2 separate regions of the Homo sapiens genome follow, and region 2 is linked to region 1. The links come from fine-mapping of genetic effects on gene expression. A gene starts in region 1. The other region holds a variant in brackets. All regions are shown on one strand. Distances are between the middles of the regions.

Evidence for each region.
Region 2: its variant is fine-mapped to the expression of TSPAN18 in whole blood (TOPMed, PIP above 0.99).

What each region holds. Positions count from the first base shown.
Region 1 is chr11:44,723,762-44,732,085 of GRCh38, forward strand. It overlaps TSPAN18 (tetraspanin 18), which reads left to right and starts at 3,201. Exons shown (of 10, transcript NM_130783.5): 1 at 3,201-3,526. All of the region lies in intron 2 of TSPAN18-AS1 (TSPAN18 antisense RNA 1), which reads right to left. RefSeq lists enhancers at 1,729-2,589, 2,590-3,451, 2,818-2,987, 4,703-5,205, 5,206-5,706 and silencers at 3,178-3,327, 4,164-4,333.
Region 2 is chr11:44,693,923-44,702,246 of GRCh38, forward strand. LINC02704 (long intergenic non-protein coding RNA 2704) reads right to left here and starts at 7,437. Exons shown (of 3, transcript XR_931234.3): 1 at 7,335-7,437; 2 at 2,299-2,391. The variant C/T (reference allele first, on the strand shown) is at 4,435.

The DNA of each region.
Region 1 (8,324 bases):
TCAAACAGCCAAAGGGATTCTATGGGCCATTTGCCCAAGCCTCCATTTTACAGATGTAAGGACCGAGGCCAGAGAAGGGAGGGATTTCCTCAAGATTACCTTGTGAGAGGGAGGTGCGGTCTTCCTGTAACCCGAGTCAGCCTTATCTTGTCCAGGACTAAATTTTTCGGGCGCCTAACTTTAAAAAAATAAAGTACTTTTTTGGCCTAATATAAGGTTGGTACAAAAGTAATTGTGGTTCTCGCCATTACATTCAATGATGAGATCCACAATTACTTTTTTCTTTTTTTTTTTTTGAGACAGAGTCTAGCTCTGTCGCCAGGCTGGAGTTCAGTGGCGCAATGTCGGCTCACTGCAACCTCTGCCTCTCGGGTTCAAGCAATTCTCCTGCCTCAGCCTCCCGAATAGCTAGGATTACAGGCACGTGCTGCCATGCCCAGCTAATTTTTGTATTTTTAGTAGAGACGGGGTTTCACCATGTTGGCCAGGAGGGTTTCAATCTCCTGACCTCGTGATCCACCCACCTAGGCCTCCCAAAGTGTTGGGATTACAGGTGTGAGCCACTGCACCCAGCCCACAATTACTTTTGCACCAATACATAGAATTATGTTTCCCAATTGAGAGGACATTCGAGATGTTCAAGGAAATTAAGGTCATTGGAGGTAATCCAAGGGCCTCCAATACCCTAATTGACCTGGTGAGGAGTGGGAGTGGAGGGGGTCCCTTCCCAATTCTCTTTTCATCAATGCTCTTGATGAAGAGTTTGTTGCTAATGTGTCTTTAACACCTTTCTAGCCTTTGGTAACCTTCCTTTCAAAGAGAAAGTGGGACCTCAGCTTCAACACCTCCTCAGGCAGCAGTATCTTGTTAGACTGTATTATTATTATTGTGGTTAAAGATACATTGTTAGAATTTAATAACACTTATTTTCATTGTATTTATTTTGATGGTTACCTTCTATTTATAGTAATGTGATGCTGGCTTTCCATTTATGGTAATAATTTAACATATCTTTTTAAAAACAAGCTCACTTAAGTAAATTAAAAAAGAATGAAAAAATAAGAGTTGATTTAGAGAAGCCTATTCAGCAGATGTCCTTAGCTAATGCACAGATAGGGCCAGGTCCTCCATGGAGGCTGGAGAGAGGCTGAGGTCCAGGAAACTGACTTGGAACTGGAGTCAGGGACCGAGCTGGTTGTCTAAGTTGTGCAGCGGGTCTGCACTCTCTTCCCCTGCGCCTGCCCCGTTCTGCCAAGCCCCAGACCCTTAGAGACTCTATCCCTCTCTCTGCCTGTCTCTGGTCTCCACTTCCCCAGCTCCAGCACCCTTGCTGTGGGCTTCCCGTTTTTCCTCTTTAAATGTATGTGGCGCCTGGTGTCCAAGGAGGCTCACACGGGGCCTCTCCCAGCAGCATTCCACAAGTGCAGGGCCTGTGGGGTGTTCAGCCTCCACCCTCCATTCTGTTTTGGCAGCTGAAGGGTGAATGTGGAGCCCTTCTCCTTGTCCTCCTCTTATAGAAATTCCACCATTAGGGACTTCCTCCCCTTGGGTGAAGCTTTGCTCACTCTGGGTCCCTTTGAAACCGCGGATCCAGGGATTTTTCTTCCAGCCACGTGCCTACTCTAAGAGTCCCGGTGACGCGGTGAAGTTCTTTAAAGGACCAGACATCCCTGAAGTCCTTACAGGGACATCCCCTTACAGGGACGAATCCATTTCCTGGAATGTGGGCAAGGAAAGGCAGCCACTTCCTGCCTCTCAAAACTCTGGCTGGTGGCTGGGTGCAGTGGCTACGTCTGTCATCTCAGCACTTTGGGAGACTGAGGTGGGAGGATCACTTGAGGCCAGGAATTGGAGACCAGCCTGGGCAACATGGTAAGAGTCCAGCTCTACAAAACACACACGCACACACACACACACACACACACACACACACACACACACACCAAAAACAACAGAAAACATTAGCCAGGCATGATGGCACATGCCTCTGGTCCCAGCTACTCGAGGGGGCTGAGTTGGAAGGATTGGATTGCTTGAGCCCAGGAGGTCGAGCCTACAGTAAGCCGTGCAGGAGGTCGGGCTACAGTGAGCTGTGCTTGTTGACCAGGCTTGTCCAGCCTGGTCAGCAGAGCGAGACCTTGTCTCAAAAACAAAACAAAAACAAAACAAGAAGATCCCCCTCCCCCCAAACTCTGCCCAGTGGCCTGACTACCAACATCCATATACAAGACAGGAGTAGGGTCAACTCCTTCCTATCAGTCACCCCTTAGTGAGAATCAGCTGGCCAAGGGGCCTCCTGCAGAGCTGATGTGTGCTTGAATGCCTAGGGCCCACGGGGATGGGGTGTGGAAGCTTCAAGCTGGGACTCAAAACAGAGTTGCCAAGGGAAGAGGAGTGGGCGACCCGAGCCCCTGTCATCAGTACTTTCACTTGGGCTGTCAGTTTTGATCTGCTTGCTTGTCCGTTTTGTCTGGGGCAGGGTCGGGTAGTTGTTTAGAGGAGGCTCAGAGGTTAAAAGTCTCAGGCAAGTCATGTCAGGGGTTGGGAGCCAGTGCTGCTGTGGCAGCAGTACAGAGAAGAAAAGATAAGCTCCCCAGCCCCGCAAGAACCTCAGCCCTGAGGCCGGAGACACAGATCTGGCCCCTTGCAATCAAGTCATTTGCATCTGACCTGGGGTCAGGCCCCTCCATGCAGGAAGTCCCCTTTCTTATCTGCAAGTCAGAGGAGGGTGAGTTCCCCAGGCTTTCAACAGGTACTTCCCCCGGCAGCGGGAAGCCCAGGAGCCCGATCAGGACCGAGGATCTCACCCCAACCCCTGCGTTTGGGCCCCGGGGTCAGCTGAAAGTTCCCCTGGAATAAACACTTCGGGTCCAGCATGCCCCTCTCCCCACTCCCGCAACGATCTTCCGAATTCAGACGCAGAGAGGGCCCGCGAGCAGAGCGGGAGGTGGTCGGAGGCGGAGGAAGGGGAGATGGGCAGAGGGTGGGCCCAGGGACCCCCAGACAAGGCCTGGACGCGGGGTTGGAGGAGGAGGCGGAGGCTGGCGGGAGGCGAGGGGCAGCCCGCAGAGGAGACGCGCTTCTCGGCAGCAACGGCGTCTGGAGCCGGGAGGGGCGGAGGTTTGGGGAGGGGGAGGGAGGGCGGGGGAGGGGAGGGACGGACGGCGGCGGAGGTGGGGCCGGCGGGCTGGCGGGCGTGCAGCTGCCGCCGGCGTCGCGGGGCTCCAGGCTGCGGGGCGGACGTAGCGCCGAGCGATCCACCGCGGAGCCGCGCGAGGCCGCCCGAGCCCCAGCCCCGGCCCCGGCCCCAGCCCCGGCCCCGGCCCCGGCCCCGGCCCCGGCCCCGGTCCCGGCCCCGAGCCCCGAGCGAGCGCCGCCGCCTCGCGCTGCGGGTCCCCGGACGCGCCGCCACCGCCGGGAAGGCAGCCGGCGCCGGGCAAGTTGCGAGCGCGCCCCTCCGACCAGGAAAGTTTCCCCCCGGCCGCCGGCGGGATTTGGCGCGGGGTCCGGCAGCCGCCGCTGGAAGGTATGGGGCTCCGCACCTCCGTGCCCTCCGCACGCCGCCGCCGCGCCCCCGGGGACCTGGGGACCCCCCCGCGCGCCGCCCCGGGGGTGCTGCTGGACGCGGCGGGGAATTGGGGTGGAGTAGGGATCCCAGGACGGAAGCCCGGCAACCAAGTTCCACTCAAACTAGCACGCGGGGGCTGGGGGGCCGGGGACGGTCTCCACCCCGTGCCTGCCCGGAGTCCGCTGAGGGCCGGGGGCTGCGCCCAGGACAGGTGCAGAGCCGGTGGGCTCCCAGTGCTCCGGGTGGAGGAGTGGGGGCTTCTGGAGAACGGCGCGGGGTGGCAGGTGTGGTTACAAGGTTCGGGGTTTCGGCCAGGGCTGCGCCCGGAAAGGGGCTGCTCGCCACGCCACCCGGTAAGACAGTGAGGGACCAGGGACTGGGAGCGGCGATCGGGGCCGGGAGGGCTGTGGGGCCCGGCAGCTGCATGGAGGGCGGGCTGCCTTTGGGGTCCCTGGCAGCGGGGCGGGGCGGGGCGGAGGCGCCACTCGTTCCTCCAGGACCCCCCTTATTCCTTAGGTGTGTGCGGTTTGGGGAAGTGGAGACTCCATGGAGTGCTGGGTGGGTGGGAGGCTCGGGCACGTCCAGATTTAGGGGGCAGTGGGAGCCAGTTGGGACGGTGCTCGGCTCGGGTGGGATCGCGCCGGCTCCGGGTCCTGCTGGAGTGAGGTGACTGGGCTCCCGCCAGGGGGCGCACTGCCCCGGCCCTCGCCAGCAGGAAGCGCGTTCTGGCTCCTGCGAGGCAACCGCGCCGACATCCAGGACGCAGGGACCACAGACACCCAACTTACGCGGGGTCCCGCCCCGAGGAGCCCGCCCTACACTAGCCAGACGGGGGAGCGGGACCAAGAGTGAGGCGAAAGGTTCACAGTTATAACTGCGCCGTGGGCTGGAAAGGCTAGGAGTCAGGATGTGATTTTTCTCGGGAAGGCTGCCAGGGCAAATGGATGAGTAAGAAATTTACCCCCAGAAAAAGATGTAAGAAACTACAACTGCGAATTGGTGCAGAGAGAGTGGGTTGGGGAATTAACTTTTTGACGGTTTTTGGAGTTGCAGAAACCCAAACCCCAAAATGCATGCACCCTTTTTGTAAAAGTTGCACCTTTGTTTCCTGGATCTGGTCGAATCCCTGTCTGGTGAAGGCAGGATGGGGGTCTTGGGGTATCCTCTCTCTGGGCACAAGTAAACTGGGAGGCACAGGGCGGGCGGTGGGGGATGGGGCCTTAAAGACTTCAGCAGTCCAGGCAGAAGTGTTAAATTTCTCAGCAGTCAACGAGCCCTGGCCCCCACCCTCATCCCCTGGGTCTGTGGTCTCTAGGCCACATTCTTCTGGTCATTTCACAATTATTGGTGGAAATCTGCCCTGGGTCCCAGTTGTCTGGCCTCAGGGTCCCTGTATGTTGAGTCTGTGTGTCTGTGCCTTGGGAAGTCGACGGCTGCTGGCATCTGTGAGGACTGTCATCTTTGTCATGTGCGGGGCTAACATTGAAGGGACATTGGAGGGACTATTGCCTCATCTTTCTCTCCAGTTCCCTCCCTCCTCCCATCACCCCAAGTGAGTGCAAAGGAGCAAATCATAGATTGTGCCGTGGCCTCATTGTGGTTGGTAGAAGTTTTCATCTTTCTCTTAGCTGGTAACCTGTGCTCCTTGGGCAGCCCCCCTCCTGCTCCCATGTCCTTAATGTCCCTTACAAAGGTGGGGGAAATGGGGGTCCCTGAAAGAGATGAGGTTCCTCTGTTCAATGTAGTCTGCCACATGTTTTTGTTGGATGCTACTGAAATGCTCCAGGACAAAGTTGCCATAAAGACAGATCAGCATGATTTTTATTTTGAATAGAAGAGGAGGAGGAGAGAGGAGAGAAAGGAAAGGGTGGAGAAGCCTGCTGTGTCTGGATAGGTCTTTAAGACATTCCAGGGGGCTGGAAAACAAAAGAAGTTTTTTTTTGTTGTGTTTTGCTTTTAGTGACTCTTGTTTTTCTGTGGAGGGAAGCCTGCATGGACCAGCCCTGCCTTGGAACCTGCCTGGGAGCATGGGGCCCCTAGAAGGCCAGCGTTTCCCGTGTTCTGTCCCTCCCCTCTTCTCCCTACCCCCACCCCACTTTTCCTGAATTGGAGAGGGAGTTGAAGGTCCCCAAGGGCTACTAAAGTCTGTGTTTGGGCTTAAAGTATCTTGTGTGGGCTCAGTCTTCTCCCAGGCAAACTCCAAGATCTCTGATTTAGCAACATTTCAAGTCTTGGGCACTCTGTTTCCTTGTCTCCCTTGTCCCCAAACCCATTCAAACAGCCAGTATATGTGGTGCTTTTACCCAACCCCAGTCTGAAATGGTAGCACATCATTGAAAGCTCCAGGACACTTTCTAGAAGCCGAAGTTAGTTGGGTTTAGGATACCTTGGGGTTGGGTTTAGGACACCTTGGGCTGAGTCCAGGAAGGAACCCTCTGCCCTTTAAAAAATGAGATTTTAATGGTCTGAGGGGTGTGTTGGAGGGCAGGGTGCTGGGTAGGGACACAGGATTAATTCAAGGATGTGTGGGAGGGGGTGCCAGGAAGAGGGAAAATAGCAGATTTGAAATCTAGCTCTTCTGAGTCATCCGTGTGGCCTTGGGCAGGTTATTTCCCCTCTTGAGCCTGCTTCCTCCGTCTGTAAAATGAATATGTTGGCTGAGGAGATTCTGAGCTATCTTGCAACTTAGAGCAGGAGAGTCTAACCTTTTAGGGGGCTGGGCAGCCCTGCTCCATTCCTTCTGCCTTCCATTCAGTGGAAGGTGCCTCTCCGGGCTGGCTTGCCTCTCTCTGCCCGCCTGTACACAGCAAAATCCTGCGTTGAGTGAATGCAGCAGCTTCAGAAACCAGCTCCTGCCATCAGAGCTGAAGGACAAAGTGCCCAGCAGTTTTGGGTAGAGAGGGGAATGTCTGTAACCAGTCCCTGCTGGGAGCCCCATGTTAGTCTGCAGGCTCGCTCCCCACTCTTCTTGGGAAGAGCCCTTTCAGTTCCTGGGGTGCAGGTTTTAGGGACCTCTCCCTTTCCAGAGGGCTGCTTTTCTGGTCTATTTCATCAGCCATTGAGAGGGAAAATCAGGAACATTTGTTCATGCTCAGCTGGGGTGCAGCACAGGGAGGGGGCCTTGGAAACCAGCACTCTGGTCCCACTGAGCAGATGACGCCCATTGATCAGGCGTTTCTACCACCTGATGCCATTGAGCAAATGTACCAGCTTGGGCTCCTCCTGCCACCCGGGCTGGCACCTTGGACCTGCATTAGTGCTCCATCTGAGGGAGTGGGGGTGGATCATGAAACACTTTTTTTTTTTTTTTTTGAGAGACAGTCTTGCTCTGTCGCCCAGGCTGGAGTGCAGTGGTGCGATCTTGGCTCACTGCAACCTCTGCCTCCCGAGTTCAAGCGATTCTCCTGCCTCAGCCTCCCAAGTAGCTGGGATTACAGGTGTGTGCCACCACACCTGGCTAATTTTTTTTGAATTTTTAGTAGAGACGGGTTTCACCATGTTGGTCAGGCTGGTCGCAAACTCCTGACCTCGTGATTCACCTGCCTCGGCCTCCCAAAGTGCTGAGATTACAGGCGTGAGCCACTGCACTTGGCTTTTGAAACACTTTTTATAAAGAATGGGAGAGTAAGATGGTGAGCCTGTGTTTGCAGCTGGCAGGGCTGGTCTTTCATCTGGGTACTTGTTGTCTTAAGATTCAGCTCTTGCCCCTGGTCTGCACCCAAGACTGCTGGCTTAATTAGTGAATTCAACAACTTGGAGATGAGCAAAAACATGTTCACTGGTGGTGGGCAAGTGTGTACAAAAGGCAACAGGATGGAGCAGAAAGGTAGCTGAACTAGGCATTAGGAGACTGGTGTTCCAGCCCTGATACTGTTACAGATGGAGCGATGTGGCCTTGTGTGAGTCACAGCCTCTCTCTGAGCCTCGGTTTCTCTATTTCTTTAGAGGCAGCAGTGCGTGGTGGTTAAACTGCCTGGATTTGCCTGTTAGCTTTATCATAACTTCATATCAATTGTGTGACCTTAGACCATTCAACCCCTGGTGCCTCCATTTCCTGATTTGTAAAATGGAACTAGTAATACCCCATCAGATTGTTGTGGATAGTCTTTGAGATAAAACTAGTAAAACATTTAGCATAATGCCTGGCATATAGTAAGTGCTCAATAAGTGTTCACTATCATCATCATTGTCATGATTATCATTATTACTATTATTGTAAAATGGGAGGGATTAACTTTGGTCCTTTCTAGTTTTCTGGGGCCTGGATTGTGTGTGTGTGTGTGTGTGTGTGTGTGTGTGTGTGTGAGAGAGAGAGAGAGAGAGAGAAAATCTGTCTTTGGGGTAGAAGGTAAGGGTGAATAAGTTGCTTTTTTGGTTCTTTTCTTCCTTTCTCTGCCTCATTGAGGGACTCCTGAATGTTGTGACTAGGCTCATGGTAGCCCCGTCCCCATGGCAAGAAGCCCAATTTGACGTCACTGACAATATCCTGGCTCCTGGCAGTTGAGGGATGATATTTCATCAGCTAGCATTTGCCTGTCCTTTCCCTTCCACCCTTTGTTTCCCACCCTTCACCATGGTATGAAAACCATATGTGCAGATAATGTGTTTAAGCTGATCAGCCTCTCCCAGAGTCACCCAAATAAAAAGCCATCTTCCTAGAAGACACTTTCGACTTTAAGATAAATAATCTGGTTCTTCTGTTGTGTTGCTTTATGTCTGGCTGGCCCTGAATCCCTTTTTGTGTTCTGCCCATGGT
Region 2 (8,324 bases), 30 kb before region 1:
CGGCCTCAATCCCCTCCCACCTCACTCAACACCTCCCTCTCCAGAGCTCCATCAGGCCGCCCGTCTGCTTCTCCCATCAGGGCTGCCGCACGTGCTGCCCTCTTTGGGGTGGGGGTAGTCAATCCCACTTCAGGTGATGAGTGGGGAGCTGCAGCAGGCCCTGGGCTGGGGGCTAGGGAAGGGGCCCCGAGTTGGGAGCTGGGGAGGGCAGGGAGTGCATGGGGGGTAGGGGCTCTGCCCGGATGCCCCTGTTCAGGGTCTGCCCTTGGTTCTGAGCCAGTGCCAAGTCTCAAGCTCTCACCTGGACTGGGCAGACGTTGGGATGGGGTTGCCTGAGTGGAGACTGAGGTGGGGGGATATAAAAGAGTTAAAATCTTTTCCCCCACAACCTACCAGCCTCCTCCCCTGCTTCCCCCAGCCTGAGGGTGTGAGATCCCAAGATGCAGAAACCAGGTGTCTGCACCAGCTCCACAGCATGTGCTGGGCCTGCAAAAGAAGTTGCCTCACAGTCCTCCAACCTGAGAGGGCTTCCCACAGGGGAAGGCTGAGAGGCGGGCAGATCTGAGTTCAATTCCCGGCCCTACTGCAGCATGTTCTGCTGCACTAGGCCTTGACTTCCTTGTCTATAAATTGGGCATCACAAAAGGCCCACAGGACTCCTGTCAGGATGTCAGGATGTGTGACGATGCTGAGTGGTGCACACGGTGCGTGCTTCACTCACGTGGGGCCGCCTTTGCATACCTGCGCCGCACAAACCACGTTAATGGAAAACGAAACCAAATCACAATCCCCCACCAGCTGGGCTTCTCTGTAAATTAACTGTCCTCGTTCTCCCTGACCCCTCAGTCCTTGTCCCCACTGGGATATAATGCTTACAGTGTTGCAGTGTGACCTAGGGCCAGGGCTGCTGTCTAGATGTGTTTCCTACTTACCCTCATATCACAATGTTTTCTCTGCACTGCAGGCTTCATTCGTTGTTTTTGATCCAGTACGAAACTTCTGAATGCCCCAATGCATGAGGCCCTAGGTTACCCTCTTGAACATCCACTCACAGCTTTTCTTTTCCAAGAGCTCCAACAAGTTCCAGAGGTGTTTTTTGTTTGTTTTCTCTCCCTTTGTCTCTGAATTCTATTAATCATGATCCCTTATTCACGCCATCCTCTTGCCATAGGTTCATAAACGGTTCTCCTCTGTTTATTTATATAAATAAACACCCAAGACCTGGTCATCCAACACAAGAATCAGAACATTAACCAGCACTTGCATCTGTCTGTGGGCTTCTTCCCTGTCTGACCATCAGCCTCCCCTACCCAAGGAAGCCACTATCCTGAAGCTTTCTGTAGGTCACATGATCATCCCTAAACAAATCACTGTGGCCTGGGGGACAGAACAGGCTGATTGGCCAGGTCTGGATCAGGTGATCATACTTGGAGTCAGGGCCTGGGGTAGAATTAGCCCCATGCAATGCACGTGGGTGGAGGGGAGTGAGGGTTGGGTGGTTTCCCAAAGGCAATCTGAAGGGCCAGGGAAAACAAGAGCCATCAACCGCACTTTGTCCCAGGCTCAGTGTCACTTGAACCAAGTCTTCCCACAGCACCACAGGGCTCAGGCTTGCCCTGCTGACCCCCAAGGCCTGGACCTGAAGCTCCTGGAAGAACAAGAGTTGATGAGAAAGGACATTCTCACTTCCTCCCACGGTCTGGAGCCACAGGCTGGAATCTCCAGCCCCACCTCAGCTGAAGGAGTGGGGAAAGGAGGCTGTCTCTGGGGGACTCGTAGAGGGCAGGGCAGCAGGCTGGGGTGGACAGGGTCCTGCTGTTTGACTCCTCCTGCTCCTCCTCCTCATTATTATCATGTCCTCAGGGCATGACCCAGGTCATCTCATTTAGTCTTCCCATGGTTTTATGTGGAGGGTCATTATTATCCCCCTCTCAGAGCTGAAGCTTCCAAGGCTGGCTAGTGAGAGACTGGCATGTGTTTACCCAGCAAAGCGGGGTCAAGCAGAGCCGTAGAGTCCTAGAGCCAGGTGGCCCTGTGGGACTGGCTTAACCCTTACGTTGGGGAACCCAGAGCCCAGACAGGTTAGATTCCCTGTCCCAGGGCCTACAGTGAGTGATGGCTCATAGCCTGACTCCTAATTCAGGGCCTGCTCCATGAAGCCAGATGAACCCAGGTGTGAGACCCGGCTTCTCCCCTTCTGATTACTTAAAGTCTGTGTCCCTCGGTGACCTCGTCCGCAAAAGAGGATGGCAATGGGCCCCACGTGGGAGCTTACCGTGAGGTTAATCACGTTCTCACCTGCAAGGTGCTCAGCATAGTGACTGGCACATGGCGAAGGCTCACGAGTGAGGGCCCTTTTCAAGATCATCATTTAGCCCCATGTTTCTCCACCTGCAACACGGGAAGAAGAGAGGCTCAAGTCATCTAAGGGGTGCGGCCATGCTTCAGAAAAATGTAATATTGAAATAGTCCCAGAGAGGTAGTACAATGTGGTGATTAAGAACGCAGACCCTGGGACCGGCCGAGGTTCCAGTCCCCACTCTGCCATGTATAAGCTGAGCTTTCTTGAGCAAATTCCTTAACTTTTCCATGTCTCAGTTTCCTCATCTACATAATGGGGTTAATAACAGTTGCTGTCTCCTGGAGTTGTTGTGAAGATTAAACAAGTTAGCCTCTGAGTGAAGTGCTCTGAACAACACCAGGATATGGCTAAGGACTTTGTAAGTATTCACTGTTACCAAAAATGCTGGTTATTAGCTGTCACTTTGGACAACCAATCATAGTTATAGAAATAAAATAGAATGTAAATGTTGTTAATCTTCCCAATATGAAATAAAATCACATAGTCAACAAACATTCGGGACTGATTGTTAATTTCCTCACCTTTTATGGAGAGTCACTAGTAGACAGTGCCTAGAGTGGATAAATGAAGAAACAGAAATGTATTTTTTAAATTAATTGATTGATTGATTTTGAGACAAGGTCCCTCTCTGTCACCCAGGTTGGAGTGTAGTAGCATGATCATAGCTCACTGCAGCCTCAACCTCCTGGGCTCAAGCAATACTCTCATCTCAGCCTCTCGAGTAGCTGGGACTACAGGCGAGTGCTACCATGCCTGGCTAATTTTTGTATTTTTTTTTTTTAGAGACAAGGTCTTTTGATGTTGCCCAGGCAGGTTTCAAACTCCTGGGCTCAGGCAATCCTCCTGCCTCGGCCTCCCAAAATGCTGGGACTACAGGCGTGAGCCACCAAGCTCAGCCAGAAATGTATTTTCTATGATTTAGTGTGAAAAAAAAAAAAAAAAACACACAAGCTGGGCACAGTGATGCGTGCCTGAGGTCCCAGCTACCTGGGAGGCTGAGGTGGGAGGAGGACTGCTTGAGCCCAGGAATTCAAGTCCAGCCTGGACAACATGGCAAGACCCTGTCACTTAAAAATTTTTTTTAAATAAATAACAATGAAAAACAAACTTGGAGTGTTTAGGAGAACAGAGAAACTTACTTTTTATTATTTTTTAACCATATGCATAGGTTCGTTCCATGAGAAAAGTTTTTAACAAATTGAAAACAAATAAATGACGGTAAGTCATTTATAAATCAGTAACAGTTCAAAGAAAGCACTTGCTCTCTATGTTAGTAAGAAACAGGAGATGGAACAGAGAAGTCCACACGCCTACTCCAATTAGAGTTCTTTGGGCAGCAAGCATGTATTACTTATAACGAGAAAATATGTAAATGAAATAAACTTGAAGCAAATGTGATGATTTTGATTCCCAGCAGGCAGGAATATGACACCTAGAATCACACTGTCCCTTCCTCTCACTCCTGACCAGGCCTGGGCGGGAATTCCACTCCTATTATCGAATGTTGCAAAAATCCCAGAGCCGCCTGGATCTAATCCTGGCTGGGCCTTCATATCCAGGTGGGCCTCCAAAGCAGGGATGAAGTTGCCCTGAGCAGCTTCCCAACCCAGCAAGAAGCCAACTGGCTGCTGGAGCCAAGAAAGGCTTGTGCTTAGCTCGCTTCATAGAAGGTCCTAGAACCGGGAGCAGATAGTTCCAGGCAGTCCCAAGCATTAGCTCACCTGTGAGTGGTAATAAAAGGGGCATTAGAGAGCTTCTTTCACCAACCTGTATCCATTCATTCACTCACCCATCAAATGTGTGTTAAGTCCCTAGCAATAGTGTCTAAATTCTCACCACTTCATAAATACTCTGCAACCCTGCTTCCAGATCCTCACATGCCTGACACCTTCTTTCTATGTGGATGGTGCATAACATTCCCATTAATATTCTGAAATAAACCCCATGGATGTTGTAACCTACCTACAGGCACGATTTTTAAAAATAACCATATACAATGTCCTATCTGTAACATAAATAGGAAATATAAAGAATGTCCCGTAAAATAAAAACTGTACTTGAACAAGTAAGCA[C/T]TCAGGCCCAGCTGCTCTGGAAGACATAGGAAGCAGTCAGGGGCTTGCAGCCTGCGCAGGACCACCATCAAGGGGACAGCTACAGATGTACAGGAACGTGGGGCACTGAGCCGAGAAGCCAACGTTCTAATCATGTCACTGTCAGATGCACGTTTCCAAAATTGTGAGCAGTTCTTGGCATGTTCTGAATAAAACTAAATATAGAGTTCTCTTCTCTTGTTTTTGTCTTTAGTTGCATCCTTGAAAATTCAGTATATATTCAAAGTGTGGAAAAATGCTTTATATTTACATGTAAAGCAGAGCTAAAGTCTAGACTCACATAATGATAAACATATTTTCTTCCCTACATGAATGTCCAGCAGGGCGTGTGAAAGTCACGTGGCTTGTGGGGACAGTTCCTCACTGGGCTGCATGATCCCACTTTTTTTTTTTTTTTTGAGACAGTCTCACTCACCCAGACTGGAGTGCAGTGGTGCGATCTCAGCTCACTGCAACCTCCGCCTCCTGGGTTCAAGCGATGATCTGCCTCCTGGGTTCAAGCGATTCTCTGCCTCCTGAGTAGCTGGGACTACAGGTGCGTGCCAACATGCCAGGCTAATTTTTGTGTTTTTCGTAGAGACGGGGGTTTCACCATGTTGGCCAGGCTGGTCTCAAACTCCTGACCTCAGGTGATCCACCCACCTCGGCCTCCCAAAGACCATCTCCCTCTTAACTAATCACCTGCCTTCCCAGACCCACCACCTGCTCAGTTTAGTGGTACTCCCCACCTGACCTTATCTTTGTGACAATCGAAAATGCCCCCCATTCATTTCCAAATCATCCCTGGGGGCAGTGCCACTCAACTGAATGTGTCGTTTAATCATCTCAACAATCTGATATAAGAGGTACTAACATTATCCCCTTTTTACAGATGAGGTGAAATGGCTGAGCCAGGACCCTCACCGGAAGTTGTCTTAAGTCCACGCAGTCTGCTATACTTCCTTCCCGCGTGTCCATTGGGCCTGCAGTGGCACTGGGGACCCAAATATGAGAAAGGCATCCCAGCTGGGGGTTGCCAATGCATAGACCCCCCTGTCTATACAGCATGGCGCAGATTCAGACAGAGGAACATATGGCATGCTGGGATATGCAGCAGAGGAGTGAGCAGAGAGCAAGAGCACCACAGCTAAGCCTGGGGTAGAGATGGTGGAGGAGCGAGGGAATGGCATTCCAGGCGGGGGAACTGCATGAGCAAAGGCATGGAGGACAAGGCAGCATGAAAGGTTCAGGGTCTGTGAGAGGCAGGGGGTGGTGGTGGGGACATAGGTCTGGACAAGCAGGCTGTGCTGTGATTGTGAAACCAGAGAGGCACGGTCAAGCAGTGTGGTTGGGCTGGGTAGGCAATGGGGAGCCATGGGAGGTTTTTGAGCGGAGTAGCTCCATGAAGGTGTTGGTTTTAGAACAATCCCTGGGAGCAGGGAGGAGAGTGAACTGGGAGGGTGAGGCAAGGGTGTGCCTCCAGTGAGCGTGCGTCTCCACAATCCAGGCCAGGGATGTGGGTGGGAGCAAGACAGCAGAGCCCTTTCAGAGGCAGAATTAGCAGCCTCACAACAAACAGGCTGTGGGTCCAGGGTGAGGAGGAGCCTCGAATGACCTTGGAAAACAGGTAACGGCTGGAGGAGAAACAAATTCAAGCAGACCTGGGATCTGGGTGAAGACATTTTGAATCTGAACTCTTTCCCCAACACTGCATCTCCACTGCTACTTCGTCTGCCCGGAACAGTCACCCTCGGCTTTAAGTATGGCTGGGGCTCCTGCTAAATGTCCCCTCTTGAGAGAGCCTGCCTGACCTCCCTGTCTACAGTAGCTGTCACCTCCTTATTTCCCATCCAAGCTCTCTACTTATTCCTGTTGCAACAGCCATCATTGGTAACTTGACCTGCTAGTTTTCTGTTTCCTAAAATAGAGCCAGGATCTGTCCTATTTTTGGTCTCTTCCGTAGCCACACTGTGTGTGGCACATAGTACCTGCTTGAAAACATTTGTTGAATGAATAAATTGAGAGAGAAGGACATCAAGGGAGAAATGCTCAGTGAGTACTCAGAAATGCCCCTGCTGCCTGAAACCCCCTATTTGAGTCTCTCTCCTTTGATGCCAGTCTTCCTGGTCTTCTGTAAAGTAATCGAGAAGGTCATTAGTCCTCTCTGAGCCACCTAGCTAGGAAGGGGTATGTCAGGCTCCTAGTGCAAGCCAGGGGTAGAGATTGGGGGTCTCCGTGGACCTTTCCCCCACTCTCTGTAAGAGGATGGTAGGAGGGAGATCCTTCCATCTCTGCTGTGTGTGTGTGTGTGTGTGTGTGTGTGTGTGTGTGTGTATGCTGGGGCTGTTAGGGGTGGGAGTGGAGGGAGGAGGAGGCAGCCTGGAGCCGAGTCCTTCCTGGAAGCCAGAGGCAGGATGCCAGAGGCATGTGTTCCCCAGCAATCCCCAGGCCCAGGGGAGGGAGCGCCAGACCTGAGCTCAGCAGGTTGGAGATGCACCCTCCAGCCCACCCCCACCCTGCCCTGCAAGAGGTCCTGCAGGCCTGGCCAGCACCCTCTTTCTCTCCCTACAGCGCTCCTCAAGGAACTGTCTGGCCTTAATAAAAGAAGTGAAACCTCCTCAGTCATGTTGTGACTTCCAGCGTCTCCCTTAATTCCCACACTAGCCCTGGGAGATGTGCATTGCCACGGGCCCTATTTCACAGATGGGAAAACCAAGACTGAGGGAGACTGTGGCTCATCCAGGGATGCAGAGCCAGGCACAGACAAATCTCATGCTCTTAGCCATGCCATACGCCATCATCTCCACCCCAGCCCTACACCTGGAGCCCCTACACCTGGATACCCCACATGTAGATGCCCCATGCCTGGGCATTCAACATACCTGGATACTCCATGCCTGGGCATCCCAGGCCTGGGTGCCCCACATCTGGGCATCTCACACTGGCAATGGGAACAGGCTGAATGGGGGCCCCTGCCCTGGAGACCCTGACAGCCCTGCTCCCAGAATCACTAACACTTGCAGGAGGGCCTGCGTTTTTATTTCTGTCTCCTTGGGCAGGAAACATGGCCAGGAGAGAGATAAGGAGGAAAGAAAGGAGGGGCAGGCTTCTCTGGAGCCAGGGCTGCTGCCTCCCCCTCCACACACAGGGCAGAAGAATAGAAGGAAGTGGCCAGAGAAAGGCAAGTGTCTGAGTCGGGGGGTAGGGGATGTGGGGCAGGGAGGTTATCATCTACAAATAACCCTATCTCCAGGACCCCCAGGAGAGGATCAGAAGGGGCTGAGGCCAGAGGGTCTGGGCTGTGTGGCTGAGGGGGTGGACAGGGGTCATCAGTGTCTGCCTGGGAGATGATCAAAGGGCCACACAGAGGACAAGGACATGACCCAGGACCCTCCCCTCTGCCTGCTGCTCTGACCCTGCAGTTGGCCAAGCAGGTTGTGCAATGACCCACCTGCCCATTGGATCAGTCCTCCCCGAATCCATCCAAACCTTCGTTCCCCCACCCACTCATCCATCCATCTACTCCTCCTGCCTCCCTGCCTCTGAGCCTTCCATTCTCTGTTCCTTCTGCCCACCACATCTACCTTTCCTCTTCTCCTTCTTTCCACTGCATCTACCTTTCCTCTTCACCTTCCTGACTCATTCTTCAGGTCCCAGCTTAGAAACAACATTCTCCGGGAAGCCTTCTCAAACACCCCCACAAAATCCAGTGTAAGGAACATGGCCCATGGCCTCCCACAGCCCTGGTCTTCTCTTTCTATGATACTTATGACAACGACAATTTCATACTCACATCCATTTCCCCTGCTACCTGAGGTAGCTGATAATTCTTCAGCACCCAGAACAGTGCCTGGCATACACTAGGTGCTCAA